4 separate regions of the Homo sapiens genome follow, and all the other regions are reported to be linked to region 3. Evidence: microRNA targets listed by miRTarBase, many of them from high-throughput screens and not tested one by one. Region 3 holds a microRNA gene; each other region holds the end of a gene's coding sequence. Distances are between the middles of the regions.

The links. Region 3 holds the annotated microRNA hsa-miR-421 (AUCAACAGACAUUAAUUGGGCGC, at 2,077-2,099, opposite strand). A microRNA usually pairs through its seed, bases 2 to 8, with sites in the 3' UTR of a target mRNA and lowers its output. Matches are read on the target gene's strand: a 7mer-m8 pairs with bases 2 to 8, a 7mer-A1 pairs with bases 2 to 7 and ends in A, and an 8mer does both.
Region 1: the mRNA of GJB7 is a reported target of hsa-miR-421. Seed matches in the 3' UTR shown: 7mer-A1 at 295-301 and 7mer-A1 at 1,257-1,263.
Region 2: the mRNA of NXPE3 is a reported target of hsa-miR-421. Seed matches in the 3' UTR shown: 7mer-A1 at 1,411-1,417.
Region 4: miRTarBase lists SLC9A6 as a target of hsa-miR-421. The part of its 3' UTR that is shown has no 7-base or 8-base seed match.

Annotation. Positions count from the first base shown.
Region 1 is chr6:87,280,517-87,284,516 of GRCh38, reverse strand. It overlaps GJB7 (gap junction protein beta 7), which reads left to right. Exons shown (of 3, transcript NM_198568.3): 3 at 1-1,537. The coding sequence ends at 276. It overlaps LOC124901356 (a long non-coding RNA gene), which reads right to left and starts at 3,581. Exons shown (of 2, transcript XR_007059667.1): 1 at 2,891-3,581.
Region 2 is chr3:101,821,259-101,825,258 of GRCh38, forward strand. It overlaps NXPE3 (neurexophilin and PC-esterase domain family member 3), which reads left to right. Exons shown (of 8, transcript NM_145037.4): 8 at 146-4,000. The coding sequence ends at 696. Among named protein-coding and RNA genes, the nearest start is that of NFKBIZ, 26 kb to the right of the region's middle.
Region 3 is chrX:74,216,316-74,220,467 of GRCh38, forward strand. It overlaps MIR421 (microRNA 421), which reads right to left and starts at 2,146; the gene lies at 2,062-2,146. The region is part of intron 5 of FTX (FTX transcript, XIST regulator); the gene reads right to left. It overlaps MIR374B (microRNA 374b), which reads right to left and starts at 2,303; the gene lies at 2,232-2,303. It overlaps MIR374C (microRNA 374c), which reads left to right and starts at 2,234; the gene lies at 2,234-2,303.
Region 4 is chrX:136,044,336-136,048,335 of GRCh38, reverse strand. SLC9A6 (solute carrier family 9 member A6) reads right to left here. Exons shown (of 18, transcript NM_001379110.1): 18 at 1,067-3,884. The coding sequence ends at 3,612. Among named protein-coding and RNA genes, the nearest start is that of SLC9A6, 61 kb to the right of the region's middle.

The sequences.
Region 1 (4,000 bases), not on the chromosome of region 3:
GGTTTTGAAATTGGCTTCCTTGTTTTATTTTATAAGCTATATGATGGCTTTAGTGTTCCCTACCTTATAAAGTGTGATTTGAAGCCTTGTCCCAACACTGTGGACTGCTTCATCTCCAAACCCACTGAGAAGACGATCTTCATCCTCTTCTTGGTCATCACCTCATGCTTGTGTATTGTGTTGAATTTCATTGAACTGAGTTTTTTGGTTCTCAAGTGCTTTATTAAGTGCTGTCTCCAAAAATATTTAAAAAAACCTCAAGTCCTCAGTGTGTGAGTGCCACAGCCTCAGATATGTTGAATGTGGTAGGAGAGGGACCCCTCCCCTACTCCAGAATCTTCACACTTGGCCATAAACACACTCCCTCTACCTGAAGCAAAGCTACTCTGTGACACACAAGAGGGTTAAACAAAGAAAACCTGCATCCCTCCTCAGCAAGGCCTAAGCTGAGTTGGAAGACAAAGCACATCAGCCTTAGTATCATTTGGGAGGAATTTTTTTACATTGTCAATATGCTTTCAGTTATGAGCTCTAGACAGAGGTCTCATTGTTTTGTTGTAGGGTTCTCCAGTATGTGGATAACATTAGTTGTTTTAGAATAGGTAATTGCAAATTAGTCTGAAGAAATCTAACAGGATTCTTTTAAGAGCTTAGATTTTTCAGGGAAAAAAAAAAAAAAAGAAACCCTGTGTCAGTTTTCTGTTTTTTCTAACTATCTCATTACAATTGGTGCACAATGAACTGGAAAATATAAAAAGTGACACTTTAGGCAAATGTGATGGCCTCCGAGCTGAAATGAAGGAACTGGCAATCTTTCCAAAGTGGCAGCCAAGGCCCCACTCCCTGTCCTACTCAATCTCTGCAGGGAAAAACTGTGGGATAGGATAGCAGCCAGCTGGGGACACACAGAGGAACATTCAACAGGAAGGTCCCGCCTAGGGAAAAGGCCACAGAGCCCAGGCCTCTTGCCGATTCAGGGATCCTTGGATATAAGTGGATTAGAGGAGAGGGAGGAAAGCTATCATTTCAGTGGTCTCCAAATCAAGTAGAAATATTACTGGGAGGTATCCCACTTAAGCCTGAACCAGCAGACATCCGAAAGGGTCACTCTAGAGTCAGAAAGGAAAGCAGGTCCCCCAGAAGGCAACACATTGATAGGAAGTGGAGGCCACAGAAAAAGAATGTGCCCACTTGATAATTACTTAAGACTTCTATTTAACCAAAAGAACATTGAAATACTTTGTAAATATTCATATTGTTGAACCTTTCATAATCAGGAATTCACTATGTACTATACTGTAAGTCATAGTTCGCCTATAATTTACTAGTATATCTCCCTCTAGGACAGATAGTAAAATGTGTACTATGTTGTTACAGTGGTGCAAAAATGTTTTAAAAGTTTATCACTTGTTTTGAAGACTAGAACTTTCTTTACTTTTCTATATTTTCTTAGCAATTCACAGATATGTTCTCTTTGGATTTAGTACTTTAACATATGTACATTTCTTCAGAATAAAAATAAGGGTATTTCACAATGCTCTTTGGCTGTCATTGGTATCTTTGCTAGACTGCAGTAGGTATGATTACTATGTGAAATAAAACATGTTCTGACAACTTTAGAACAGGATTTGCAACACTGCTTGGCTAAGAAATTATTCTTCTCCCTCAAGAATTTAACAGAAAATCAGGGCATAAAAATGTAATTTTAACAAAAACCAATTATGTCTTCCATACCTTGCCCTCTTTAGAATATAATCTCATTACAAGTCATGCGCAATGAAGGTTATTTGGGTCATTACGTGGTCTACAGACCATGTCAGCAGCAGCGGTCATTATTTCTATCTTAAAGACTGTGTTCTAGACAACAGAGAGAGAGGTGAAATTTGTGGTTTACCCCTTTCTTCAATTTATACCACAGATCACTGCTGGACTTGAGCTTACAAACATGTACTTTATCATTGAATATGAAAACATCTAGCCTGCATGAATGCAGGTAATCATGAATTTTGTGTGTGTATGTGTGACAATAATAGATGGTTAAAAAAAATTTAAGGTTTTTGAGACCCTGATCACAGCACAGAATCTAGAAAACAGGGTTTCAGAATGCAGAACTGGAATGGAAATAAGGGGCTTTGTCAGTCTGAGGAAGAGTTTGATGCCAAAAATGTTTTGGGGGAGCTCATCCTCTTCATATCAGTTATGGCAAGTTCTGCCTAAGCAAAAAAGTCCAACTGCTTGGCCATATATTCTTTGCATTTCCACTTTGTATAGAAGAAACTGAAAGGTAATGTGAGCAAGGGCAATGGCATTGAAGATGTTTAAATAGGAAGGTGAGTGATTTTCGTTCCTTGAGTCTTGCTGGTAGTGCCTTAATTTACAAAGTGAGTTTCCTATGAGAACATTCTGATGGCTTTCTTGGGGTCAGTGAGGACCCAAAGTATTTGATTGAGAGAAATTGGCAGTTAATTTGTACCATATTGTTTCTCTTATTGGTAAATTAATATTGATTGAGCACCTGGGAGCAAGACACTGTGCTATGTACATCCCAAGATTTAATGCATAATTCCTGCTCAAGAAAATGTCCACTTCTGTTAAGGCTCATGGAGGGTGAAGTATCTTAAACCTGTGTCCTGGTCTCACTGGCCCACCTCAACTGTTCTACTCCGAAACCTTCTGGTGTCCACAGAGCAGACAGTAACCTTGGAGATGGGGAAAAAGCAGTCACTTTTCTTCAGGGACATGCAACTAGTACAGGCAGACTGAACAATCAACCATAGGTCTTCCCAGATCACTAAACAGAGGTCTCCCTAATTTCATTTAAGCCACTCCCAGCTTGCAGTGATTATTCCGACTGCTCTGCACTTGTCCCATACTCTTTCTAGTTACAGACCTTGTTCCTGGCCACAGGAGTTCTCATTAGAGCTGGCAGGAAATGTTTTCAAGCACTTGTACAAAAGAATGCCCAGAGCTCTAAGTGGCTGTGGTTCCAGTCTTCCCAGTGGAATGAAGCCAATCTAGAAAAAAGACTGTGAAGATGAGAGAGGAGAGGGAAAAAGGCAAAGACTTGAGGATGTTTGAACTCCTCAATCCCATTGTCCCTGAGTCTGGCTCTACCCCTAATCTTTCGGTGGTTAGTTACATGAAAGATAAATTCCTTTTTGCTTAAGCTGGTTCAAGTTGGATTTCTGTGTCTTGTAACTGAGAGTCCCAATAAAGCCACCTTCTTCATAACTTTCTTTCCTGTATAATACAAAATTTTAATAATTTAAAAGCCTATAGTGCCCTGCCTCTCCTTATTCTAGCTCATATCCCATCACATACATGTAACACTTTTCTTAAACACTGATGTCGATTTATTCCTAGTTTATTTTGTTTGTATATTTAACACTGCACAGAGCACAAAAGTGAGGAGCACTTCATAGCTCTTTAAAAGACTGATTAGAGGGCAAGTGCAGTGGCTCATGCCTGTATTTCCAGAACTTTGGGAGGCCAAGGCAGGAGGATCCCTTGAGTTTAGGAATTCAAACTTGAGGTGGGCTATGATCGCGCCACTGCATCCAGCCTGGGTGACAGAGCAAGACCCCGTCTTTTTTTTTTTTTTTTTTTTTTCGAAATGTAGTCTTGCTCTGTCCCCCAGAGTGAAGTGCAGTGGCATGATCTCAGCTCACTGCAACCTCCGTCTCCCAGGTTCAAGCAATTCTCCTGCCTCAGCCTCTCGAGTAGCCAGGATTATAGATGCCCACCAACATACCCGGCTAACTTTTGTATTTTTAGTAGAGACGGGGTTTGCCATGTTGGCCAGGCTGGTCTCGAACTCCTGACCTCAGGTGATCCACCCGCCTCAGCCTCCCAAAGTGCTGGCATTACAGGCCTGAGCCACCACGCCTGGACAAGACCCTGTATTAAACAAAACAAAAAAACTAATGAGGAAAGAAAGAAGCAGTGGTGGAGCACGTAGAGGCAAAACATGTCAGAATTCAATTGAATTTTTATGACAAAA
Region 2 (4,000 bases), not on the chromosome of region 3:
AAATAGGTATTCCCTTTACATTTATATTGTACCTTTTTGTTGTACTTAAAAAAAAATTGTTATTTGAAGCCACTTAATAAGGTATAATCAAAATATATGTGCTTGGTTTGAAGGTTTTTATGAACTTGAGTTTTCCTTGTTTCAGATTTAGTGGAGTTTAACTTGGGTAGTCCCAAGAATGTGGGTCCCTTCCTTGCAGTGGACCAGAAGCACAACATCCTGCTCAAATACCGCTGCCATGGTCCACCCATCCGCTTCACGACTGTCTTTAGCAATGAGCTCCATTATGTGGCGAATGAGCTGAATGGCATTGTGGGAGGGAAGAACACAGTGGTTGCCATAGCTGTATGGTCTCACTTCAGCACCTTCCCTTTGGAAGTGTACATCCGGCGGCTCAGGAACATCCGTCGAGCAGTGGTTCGGCTCCTCGATCGAAGCCCAAAGACCGTGGTGGTCATCCGGACGGCCAACGCCCAAGAGCTGGGACCTGAGGTGAGCCTTTTCAACAGCGACTGGTACAACTTTCAGCTGGACACCATCCTTCGGAGGATGTTCTCAGGGGTTGGAGTATATCTCGTCGATGCCTGGGAGATGACCCTGGCCCATTATCTACCGCACAAGCTGCATCCAGATGAAGTTATTGTGAAGAACCAGCTGGACATGTTCTTGTCCTTTGTGTGCCCCTTGGAAACCTAGCCTGTCTTGGAAGGGACTGGAGGAATCATATTCAATGACCTTCTCAATTGACCTGAGTTACAGAAAGTGGCCCCAGTGAGAGATGACTGCCCTTAATAAGTATAAAATTTCAAAAAGATCTGGACTTAATATGATGACTTATAAGGAGCTTAGAAAATGCAGGTTACATTTATATCTACCTATAGGATTTTATCCAATGTTGACTTAGCCATGGTAGAACTCTTAACTGCATCTACACACTATATTGCTCTTGTAACCAAAGATGCTAATGAGTGTATTTGAATTAGCTTCTCCTAGGAGGGGTGACTACTTTGCTAAAGAGTATGAAAAATGTTTTGATGGAAGGGACAAGTTTGGTTGGTAGTAGAGTGTTTGTAGCTTATCTGGTAAAGGAAATTGAGTGCATCTGCATGCATAGCACAAGTAATCCATCTTCTGGCGGTTAACTAGAGAAAGCTTATAGTCAGAGGCTCTTGTGAATGCACTGAAGACTGCTGTGTCTCAGGAGTTTCTCTTGATGATCTACCTTTTCTGAATTACTTGAAAAGGCCAATGTGCTTGGTTCGAGTTTTTTAGTGAATATTTACAATTTCCTGCTTTTATCTAGAAAAGAAGCAAAAGGGAAATATGAAAGCAGTATATATAAAATCTGTGCTTTGGAATTGATATTTGCATTTGGTGATTGTTTTTTATTTGATTCAGCTAAATTTTATGTGTTGAATACTTACTCTAGAATAACTACTTTTGGAACTGGAAGGGGGAAATCTGTAAATGGAAATTTATTTTTATGTTCTGAAATTTGAGGGTTTAGGAATTGACTTTTGTGTAAAGAATGCTACGATATTATAAAGCTGTGGAAGTTTTTTCCACTAGTTTCAGGTGTTTTTTTTTTTGTTGTTGTTGTTGTTATTTTGAACTACTTACCAAAATTAGAAGTTAAAATCTAATTAGAAATTAATAAGATACTAAAATTCATGACAGTTTTTTGTTTGTTTGTTTGTTTGTTTTTTGGTATTTCTTGATTTGGGCATAAAAGGCACACCCATTCTCTCATGCTTGGAAGAAGCTGCTATTCCTACTGGCTATCTAAGAAGAATGGAATTATTAATTTTATTTGACTTATTAATTTTAAACGAGTTTAATTTGGGATCATTTAGTAAGTACTCTTTTCTTTTTGAGCTGTGATAGATTATAGTCTAGTTTAAGTTGCTCCTAAGTAGACAGATGAAGAAACTAGGGAGGCTTTAGAGAGGAAGACAGATGCTTGAAGTATGAACAATATATACCCTTAGAAGAATGGGTCAAATAATTTGGGTTTTTAATTTAAAATAGGAGGGCCCCAGATCTTACTTTCCTGTCCTTGAGGAACACCTTCAAGTTTTTAAAGTATTTTAGGGGGAAAGAAGATTTTTAATTGTTTCTGAGCCTAATGAGGTAATAAAATATATTAAAATAGTTTAATTTTAATGGTCCTTACGCTTTACAGTACCTAAGGATCACTTGTAGTATCTGACAAAAATGCAGAATTAAAGAGTCATGGCAGGGTGTGGTAGCTCAAGCCTGTAATCCCAGCACTTTGGGAGGCCAGGCAGGAGGATTGCTTGAGGCCAGGAGTTTGAGACCAGCCTGGGCAACATAGTAAGACCTCATCTCTACAAAAAATAAAAAATTATCCAGGTGTGGGCCGACAGTCCCAGCTACTAGGGAGGCTAAGGCAGGGTGATTGATTGAGCCCAGTAGTTTGAGGCTGCAGTGAGTTATGATTGCGCCACTACACTCCCACTTGGGCAACAGACAAGAGATCTTATCTCTAAAAAATTTTTGTTAAATAATAAAAGAATTAAGGCCAGGGATGTTGGCTCACATCTGTAATCCCAGCAGGGATTATAGTCTCGGGAGGCTGAGGTGGGCGGATTGCTTGAGCCCGGAAGGTCAAGACCAGCCTGGGTGCCATGGTGAAACCCCATCTCTACAAAAAAATACAAAAACTAGCTGGGTGTGGTGGCACCACCTGTAGTCCCCGCTACTTAGGAGGCTGAGGTGGGAGGATTGCTTGAGCCCAGGAGGCAGAAGGTTGCAGAGGTTGCAGTGAGCCTTGATTGTGCCACTGTACTCCAGTCTGGGCAACAGGGCAAGACCCTGTCTCTAAAAAAAAAAAAAAAAAAAAAAGAGGGACCATGATGCCTCTGGGATTTATGAAACCAACCTTTGTGGCGAGTGCTCAGTGATTCTGATGCAATGGTGGTATTCCACACTGTGAGAAACACTAAGAGAAGAGGTAAGATAGAATGAGGGAATAAACATGGCTTGTTTATTATTTTGGGGGATTTACCAATAACTGGTTTAATTCTGTTCATGATCCAATAGTATTGGTGATATTAGCTCCATTTTATAGATGAGGAACTCATGTTTAGATCTGAAATAAGGTATGTGAGAGTCCATATCTCTTTTCAGCTAAACTTGTGAGACTTTCGTAAAGAAGCGTTTGTATTTATTTATTTGTTTTTGAGACAGGGTCTTGCTCTTTTGCCCAGGCTGGAGTGCAGTGGCATGATATGGCTCACTGCAGCCTTGACTTCCTGGGCTCAAGGGATCCTTCTGCCTCAGCCTCCTGAGTAGCTGGGACTACAGGTATGTACCACCATGCCCAGCTAATTTTTGTATCTTTTTGTAGAGACTACATTTTGCCATGTTGTCCAGGCTGGTCTTAAACTCCTGAGCTCAAGCATCTGCCCACCTCAGCTTCCCAAAGTGCTGGGATTACAGGTGTGAGCCACTGTGCCCAGCTGAGAGTTTTTCTTGTCGTGAAAGAACTTGACATTTCCTCAAGGATTTATAAAGGAGGCTGAGGAGTAATTTTCCCAGGAGAATTTTAAAAAGAAAGCGGGCATTGCTCCTCCAGTGGTTTGGAATGATGCCACTTGATTGTGCAAATGATTTCTTATGATCTTGTCTGGTTTTCTGTTATTTTTTGATTTGGTGACATAGCTCTCAAAGATTTGGTGACACAGCTTCTTGAGTCACTTTCATCTCTCTTAAAAAAATTTTTTTTTTAACAACTTTTAAGTTCAGGGGTACATGTGCCAGTTTGTTTCATAGGTAAACTTACGTCATGGGGGTTTGTTGTATAGATGATTTCATCACCCAGGTGTTAAGCCTAGTACCCATTAGTAATTTTTCCTGATCCTCTCCCTCCTCCTACCCTCCACCCTCCAATAGACCCCAGTGTGTGTTGTTGCCCTTTATGTGTCCATGTGTTCTCATCATTTAGCTCTCACTTATCAGTGAGAACAACTTTCATCCC
Region 3 (4,152 bases):
GAACAGATGGCATATAGCAAGGTGTCAGGCATAGAGCAAATACTCAATAAAAGAAGGAATCACCTGGATCCCCCCACTCTTCTAAGGCTCATCTACTATCCCACTACAGCCTTTCTTCTCTAGTATTTGCAGTTAACATGTGCCAACCTCCAAGTCATTCCTCACAGTCACTGAAGCCTTTTGTACCTGGCCCAGTGTTCATTCTAAGCCTAGCTTCTACTATAATCCTGGGTTACTATAATAGTCATGTAAATGATCATCTGACATCCTAGCTTCACAGGTATCTTAACCACTCCAGTTTTGAAATCTAACACTCCAAAGTCTACTCTGATTACAGGTCCTATCACTCCAGTTTTCCAATTACTCAGCACTCACCTTGTTCACATTAAAGCCTCTTTTTGGCCCAGACTGAGGCCACTCCTGACCTTACTTCCTTCCATGTCCAGGTTGGATTTTTTTTTTTAAATGAAGTCTCACTCTGTTACCCAGGCTGGAGTACAGTGGGTGGGATCTCGGCTCACTGCAACCTCCGCCTCCTGGGTTCAAGTGATTCTCCTGCCTCAGCCTCCTGAGTAGCTGGGATTACAGGCATGTGCCACCACACCTGGCTAATTTTTGCATTTTTAGTAGAGACAGGGTTTCACCATGTTGGTCAGGCTGGTCTCGAACTCCTGACCTCAGGTGACCTGCCCACCTTGGCCTTCCAAAGTGCTGTGATTACAGGTGTGGGCCACCGCGCCCGGCCTTAGTTTGGATTCTTAAATCCATTTCTGTGTAACTCGTCTCTTGCTAGCTGTCCACCCCTCAATCAATCAAGGCAACCAAATACTGCTAGTGACAATGCCCCAAAACCACTTCATATTTTCCTGAGCTTCTAACCCAGTTTCAAACTCATTTCTTACTTTGATATACCATAAGCTCTCCTGTTAATGGTCTCACTCCAGCGTTTTGGCCTGAATATTCCTTAGGGACTCTGGTTCATATTTAGCCCTCTAGTATTTCTGTTCCAGCAGCTTTTGTCTTCATATTCCTGTTCCTGGTCAGCTTCCTCCCCATCATCCACCTCTACAATTACAAATCTTCACCACCCTTGCCAAGTCCTCTTCCTTACTCCTATCCCTATCTCTGTGCTCCAGCAAAGAGGTAGTTCCACTTACCTAAGGCTAACCCTCCACCTGCATGTGTTCTAGAGCCATAAATTTCACCCTTCCAGCTTCACCTGCATCATCTTTCAAGATCATCTTCCATCTATTATCATCTCTCTCTTTCTCACATCTACAATGACTCCCTTCTCAATTCCTTCTGCCCCATGGTCTGCAAACACACTCAATTTTTTTCTCATGTTAAATGATTCACTGTAAGGCGCTGGATAAGTGGTTTTAACTTGTATTCTGGTTGTCACATCTACAATCAGAAAAGCTTCTCACAAAATAATGATTAAGTACAATAAATAAGATAAAGAAAATATGAACCTGGTGAGAGGTGAACAGGACGGTGGAGGATTACCTGTCAGTGCAGGTAAGGGGATAGCTGGAGTAAAGTTGAAAGGGGAAAACTTTAAATATCAGCCACAGGAGCAAACCTCAGACTGTGAGGATGAGGTTTCTGTTCAGACAATGAGCACTCTGGTCCAACCCAGGGAGCAATTAGCAGCAATTACAGTAGCAGCAACAGCCATGCAACATCAGCAAGTAGCTAAGACCAAAATGCAGGCATAGAAATGAAGTATTTCATAGAAAACAGAGTAGCAAATATGACATATGAGGCACTTGTGCTGCTACTCCCCCTTCTCCGACCCTCAGCAGACATCACTAAATAGTTATAAATGTCTTTCACACTGAGATAAGACCTGGTTTCAGAATCTTGTTATAAAACATAATCAGGGCAGGCATTATCAATCAATTGGAGATGGTACTTGAGATGAAGTGTATTTGCTATCATTGCACTACACAGAAAAGTCCTCAACAAAAGAATTAGAAGACAGGAATAAGCTTCAGGAGTAAGCATTCTGAAGAGAGCTTGGACGTTGTTGGCAACTGGCGGGGACAAGCTGAGCCCATGGAGATCACAGAGCAGGCGCCCAATTAATGTCTGTTGATGATTCATTTTTTCATTCAACAAACATTTAATGAGGCCTACAATGTGCACCGGATTAGGCACTGTGAATACAAAGATGAGTAAGGCACTGTCCTTGCCCTTAAGGAATTTAAAGTCTGGTAGACGAGAGCCATAGACACGGACAATGATAATACAACCTGCTAAGTGCTAGGACACTTAGCAGGTTGTATTATATCCATCCGAGTAGGATTTCTTCAGAGGAGCACCACTCCAGGTTGCTGCTGGATCCATGAAGTCCTCCCAGGCACCAGGGTCTGCTGTTGTTTTTGTCACGTGCTGGGTGTCCCAAGATCTAACAATAATAGCTGTAATTAATGTATAGAGTGCCTATGACAAACACTTTACAAATATCTTCATGGAAACTCTGAAAATTAATAGTTATATTAGAGGAAGAAACTGAAGTTCAACAAGTTTAAGTCACACAGCCAGCAAGCAGTTGAATTAGGTTTCAAATCCAGTTTTGACAAAGTCTAATGCATTTTTCTGTTTTCAGGATAACCTTTATGCAGGTGTAATACAACAACTTTTCAACAGCTTTCTATTTGGAACTAAAAGCAAAGGCAATAGATTAGTCACTAGATCATGGAGTGATTAATTTGGTTTCCCACTCTACCTGGCAGAGAAATAAAAGGTGAAATGACCTCACACTTACATACCATTGAAAACCTTCAAGTCAGTTACTGTTTTTCTTTCTCAACCCTAACATCGTCACTGATCATTCAAAATATAAGTACCTCTAGTCAAATCTCTTCTTTTAATACTTGTCATAGTCAACACCATTATCAGCAACAACAGTTGACACAGCATTTAGCTGTATATTCCAGGCCTGTTCTAAGCAATTTACATAATTAGTCCCTTTAAGTACTTTTTACCCCCATCATTGAAAATAAATATTATTCCTATTTTACATAAGAGAAAACAGAGTCCTGGGGAAGTGAAGAATCATGCTCAAGACCACATTGCTAAGTGTGAGAGCAGATTTGAGCCCAGGCTACCTGGTCCCAAGACCCAAACTCTCACTTTACATAGCTCTGCTGCACTGCTCAGGGCCTCCTTTCCCAACTCTTGATGGCAAGTTACACAAGGCCCCCTGAAAAACCCAGTCCTACTTACATAAAATCTCATCACTAACCATTCTGGTCATAGAAAGCCATTCTCTAAATCCCAAATATCAATACTCAGAGCCTTAATTGGAAAATTTCCCGAAGAACATTGAGTTTAGAATATACCTTTGCAAAAAGAGAAAATAAACACTCGATATGTTTAGGTTTTTAATTATTGAATTTTTTTTTTACTTGCAGATATAGTCATAAACGTTTTAAGATCCATAAGCAAACTAAAGCAATTATGCCAATAATGACTAAGGCCACTGCTTCCTCAATTGAGTCTTTGATATAAAAGCCTTCACTTTTGGTTAATTACAAAAAAAAAAAAAAAAAAAAAAAAAAAAACCGTGGGAGATATGTGACAGTGAGAGTAGGCCTGCTACTGATGAGAAGGACCAGCAACTTAGCAACACCATAAAATGTCTGCTGCAATTCAGGTGTCTAGGTGTCTCCCTGAGAATCAACATTTCATATACAGCTGTTCCCAGAAAACAATCTTGCACAATCTGTACAGTCAAGTTATGATCTAAAAGGAGTTAATTGCAACATTCATCCAAAGAATATGACAGTATTTTTCATCAAGGTCTTTTTCTATAAGTTTTTCTATAACTTTTCCTATAAGTTCTATTATGTCTATACAGTCATGTGCTGCCTAACAATGTTTAGGACAATGATGAACCTCATATATGACAGTTGTCCCACAGTTGTCCCACCACAAAATCATATCATATTTTTACTGTAGCTTTTCTATGTTTATATATGTTTAGGTACACAAATACTTACCATTCTGTTATAATTGCCTACAGTATTCAGTACAGTCATATGCTGTACAGGTTTGTAGCCTAGGTGTGTAATAGGCTATACCATTTAGAGAGGTTTGTGTTAATATACTCTATGAAGTTCACATGACAAAATCGCCTAACAATAC
Region 4 (4,000 bases), 62 Mb from region 3:
AATGCGAGGACCCTCCCAACCAGGGAACGCCAACAAGACAGCCAAGAACACAGCAGCAAGTGGAGGCACAGAGCTGAGACTTCATGCCTTAGCCTGGCCTGATGACAAGCAGGTCGGGGGCAGCAGGCTAGAAAGCAATTCTGCAATTCCCTTCATCCTTCTGGTTACAATCAGGATGAATCAGCAGAGCCTGCCTTTGGGGCCAGCAAAATAGTAAGCATCTGGGCTTTGGAGTCAGACTTGACTTGGGTCCTGACTCTGCCACTTACTCGCTGTGTGACTTCTCTGCACCTCAGTTTCATCTGTATACTGAGGATGATAGAATGTGCCCTCAATGCATGATTATAGATTTTAAAATGCCTTGTATACACATGACCAGTACCCAAGAAGGGCTCAAAAATGAGAACTATTATTATCATTTCCAATTTATTTTCAAGCCTCACACTACATCATCTGTGTGGCGTACGTCCTGTCGGGGACTCTCATCTCATTATACTCCTGCATTGGGTCAGGTTAACAACTGTACCTGCTCAGATCTAATGTAGGGTTTTGTGTAGGGAATTAGAAAACATGGGTTCCTTCAAGAAAAGAGCCTGTTGTGTGTGGACCATCCCCCACCAATGTCTCTCACTGGGCCATAAACAAGGAAGCTGGAGTGGATGACAAGAAAACACAACAGACAGTGTGGTTGGTGCCATTGCTGGACTAGACAAACTTGCAGTCAGCAGACTCTAGCCTATAAAACTTCTCATGCACAGAGAGACGTGTCTTTAACTTGGAAGGAGGACTATTTGTATTTGTGTGATCATGCTTTTAGCCAAACTTGGAACTGCCTTCCTACCTAACTGGATATACTTGGAACTGCCTTCCCACCTAACTGGATATAGAATTCTCTTTCCCCATACCAGCATTTTTATAACATTATCCATTACTAAGCTAACAGGCTACAAATCAATGTAATAGAATTTGACAGCTTTGAGTCATATTTCCTAAAGAGTCCAATTGTGACCATAAGCAAATACATCCACCCTTACACATAAGCACCAAAAATTTGCCAACCCATAAGTTAAGTTCTGTTAGGTTTCTGTTTGTTTATTTGAAAACATTAGTCTTCCCCTTTTCCACTAGGTATATAGGTAGAAAAATAAATGAAGTCAGCACTCTTTACGTCTCACTAAAATAAACTGTGACTCAAATACTGTGAGTGGTTATTTGCAAGGCTATAACTTTTTTAATGACAGATTTTCCTAAAAGAAACCACTATAACATCTGTCCAAGTACTCCAGAGAAAACAAAAAATACATAAAGATTAAAAGTCTATTACTTTAACAGCACATTGCCAAACACGGACAACTAGGATAAATGCCAAGAAACCTTAAAAAATAACTTTAAAAGATGCAACGTTCAAGCCATTCAAACGCGTAGGTTCCACAAACAACAGGAAAACAAGTCCAAGAGCAGTTCTACTTGTGCATGATGGTAACTCAGACTGTACTTCATCAAAGTTCATTCAGGTGTTTCATAGGCGTCTGAGCAGAGTTTGTTTTTTCTTCCTTGCTTGGAGATGTGTACACAGATTAGAGGAGAGGAAAGTCTTCCAGATGCTGATGTAAGCACAGCAGGCTTGGTTCCCCTTGATAAAGTATGAAGGCAGATTTAGTTGACTCAAGCTTTATCAGTTTCCCTAGTGAAAAGTCTTATGCATGCTGAAATAGACGAGTTACTGAATTTGTCATGCGAAGTATTTACATAAAGTGAGGTCAGTAACCCGACAGAATAAAAAAGGTAGTTGTTAAATTATTGTATAACCTTTTACAACTTGAATAACTTTGTGGGTAAGTGACACTGACGTTCAAACTCCTCAAACATACATTAACAAGAAACTATTTACTGCGTGAAGAGGCACACATCATGTAAAACATACACGTCATGGGAGGGATTCCTGCATAGCAGGAAAGTCGCTACCACTACATAACAAATGGCTATGCCAACAGTCAAAGCTGCCACGAAAGGGTACAACATTAGAATTCCCCTAAAATCTCAAGGAGTGTTTGCAATAGCACAGATAGATGCCTTTCGGAGAGTAAGTACATGTTTTGTTCAGAAGGGTATTTTTCACTGGAAAATCTGAACATCATGTAAATAAATCAATGTTCTAACTGGATAAGATTTAAGGCAATGCTACTCAGACCTGAGGGAAAAAAAATCCAAAAAAGTTTGTTTTTCTTCTGAATCATGAACAGGTCAAAATCAACATCAAAAAGCATTCTTCCAAGCATTCAATGCATCTTTAGGTATTATCAGCATTACAAAATAGAATCTACTTTCATACTCCAAATATGAAATGAGAAATTGTTCTGTGCTCTTCCTTGAGAACTGTAAAAAAAAAAATGCATGGCAGCTTAGGTAATTAATATTAAAACGTACCATGAAAATGAAGACTACTACACCTGCTGCACACAAAGGAGCCACCCTGCTGCAATCAGTGCTCCAGAATATTCGATTTCTCTTATGACTGACTTTGGTGCAGTGTGGAACGATCGTGGGTTCATAAATTAACTGTTGACATTAACTACAGACTAACAAATGATGATTAGACACAGTAAGTTCAAAAATTTTACATTTTGCTCCTGTTTGGCTGCTAAAGAGCAGCAATTTAAATCGATATAAAAACTTCTGACGACAAAGCCTGCTATACAGATAAAGTACATAATCAAAAATTAAGCAGCAATTAAATTTCTTATTTAAACTTATCTGGTATAGAATATTTACACATTTGGGAAGAGAGATCTCTGAAACCACCATTCTCTTTACTCGCCTCTTGCTCTCTGCCCACCCCAGCCCCTCCAAATCTAAATCAAGTGCCCTGAACTATATACACCTGTACTTTGGCTAAGCCGGCTAGATGTGACTCCTTCTACGGTCTTGGTCTGGAAGAAAAGACATAAAGTCTCAGAAGTCATTTGCAGCCTTCTTTTCTGAACAACAGTGTACTGTAGTCAATGAATCTGTGCTTTCACAGCAAGCGGGGGAAAAGGGTCCTCACACTTCACTCCCCAACCTGAATGGGGCAAGATCAAATGCCATCAGCTCGTTGCACCACAACAGGCCACCAGAGAAAAGGGAAAGAAAACGATCAGGACAAAGGCAGCAGCTATCAACAAAAGTTTCCCAACAAAGGAACCTCTCCTCCCTAGGTTCCCAAGGAAATAACACTCCCTCCTCACTCTCCCTCCCCTAGCACACAAAAAAATTAATTCACATCACGAGAACTGGTACTCTGGTTAAGTGTCAGGTAAGTTTAAGAAAGAGAAAATCCGTCACTTTTTACACTTTAACTGAGACATAAAACTAACAGAACACACAACATCACTGTGAAAGTAACTTCCTAAAACAGATCCAGTCTACAGAGTGCAACCAGGAAAACTTAAAGGAATATAGTTTGTTCACAATCTGCCGTGTACAGGATATTTATATTCTTTCTATGCCATATAAATAGCATTTATATAGCTTACACATTCAGAGACATGCACTGGGACTTTTAGGTAGTACAAATTTCTTCACAATCACATGTGCAAATTTTACAAATCACTAAGTGAGTATTAGTAAGCTTAGGCTGGACCATGTCTCGTATTATCTAACAAATTTAGCGGGGGTTCAGAATCATCCATTGGAAGAACCAGGCGTGTTCCTCGAATGACCAGTTCATGGTCCCCAAATGCAAGCTCCCGATCCAAGGCATCTTCAGAACTGTTTCCCATAAATCTCCTTGGGGCGCTGGATGTGGCCGGTTCAGTGTTCACAGTAGAATCTCCATATGTCAAACTGATGTCACCATCATTGAGAATAAGATCAGAATCATCATCTTTCAACTGTTCCTGGTTCTAAATGCAAATAAAGTAAGATTTAAGAATTTTTGAGAAGTTCAAGAGACATTTCCAATAGGAGTATTTTCGAGGATCCCCCATTAAAACCCTTAAGTGGTAGCCCACTGCCCTCA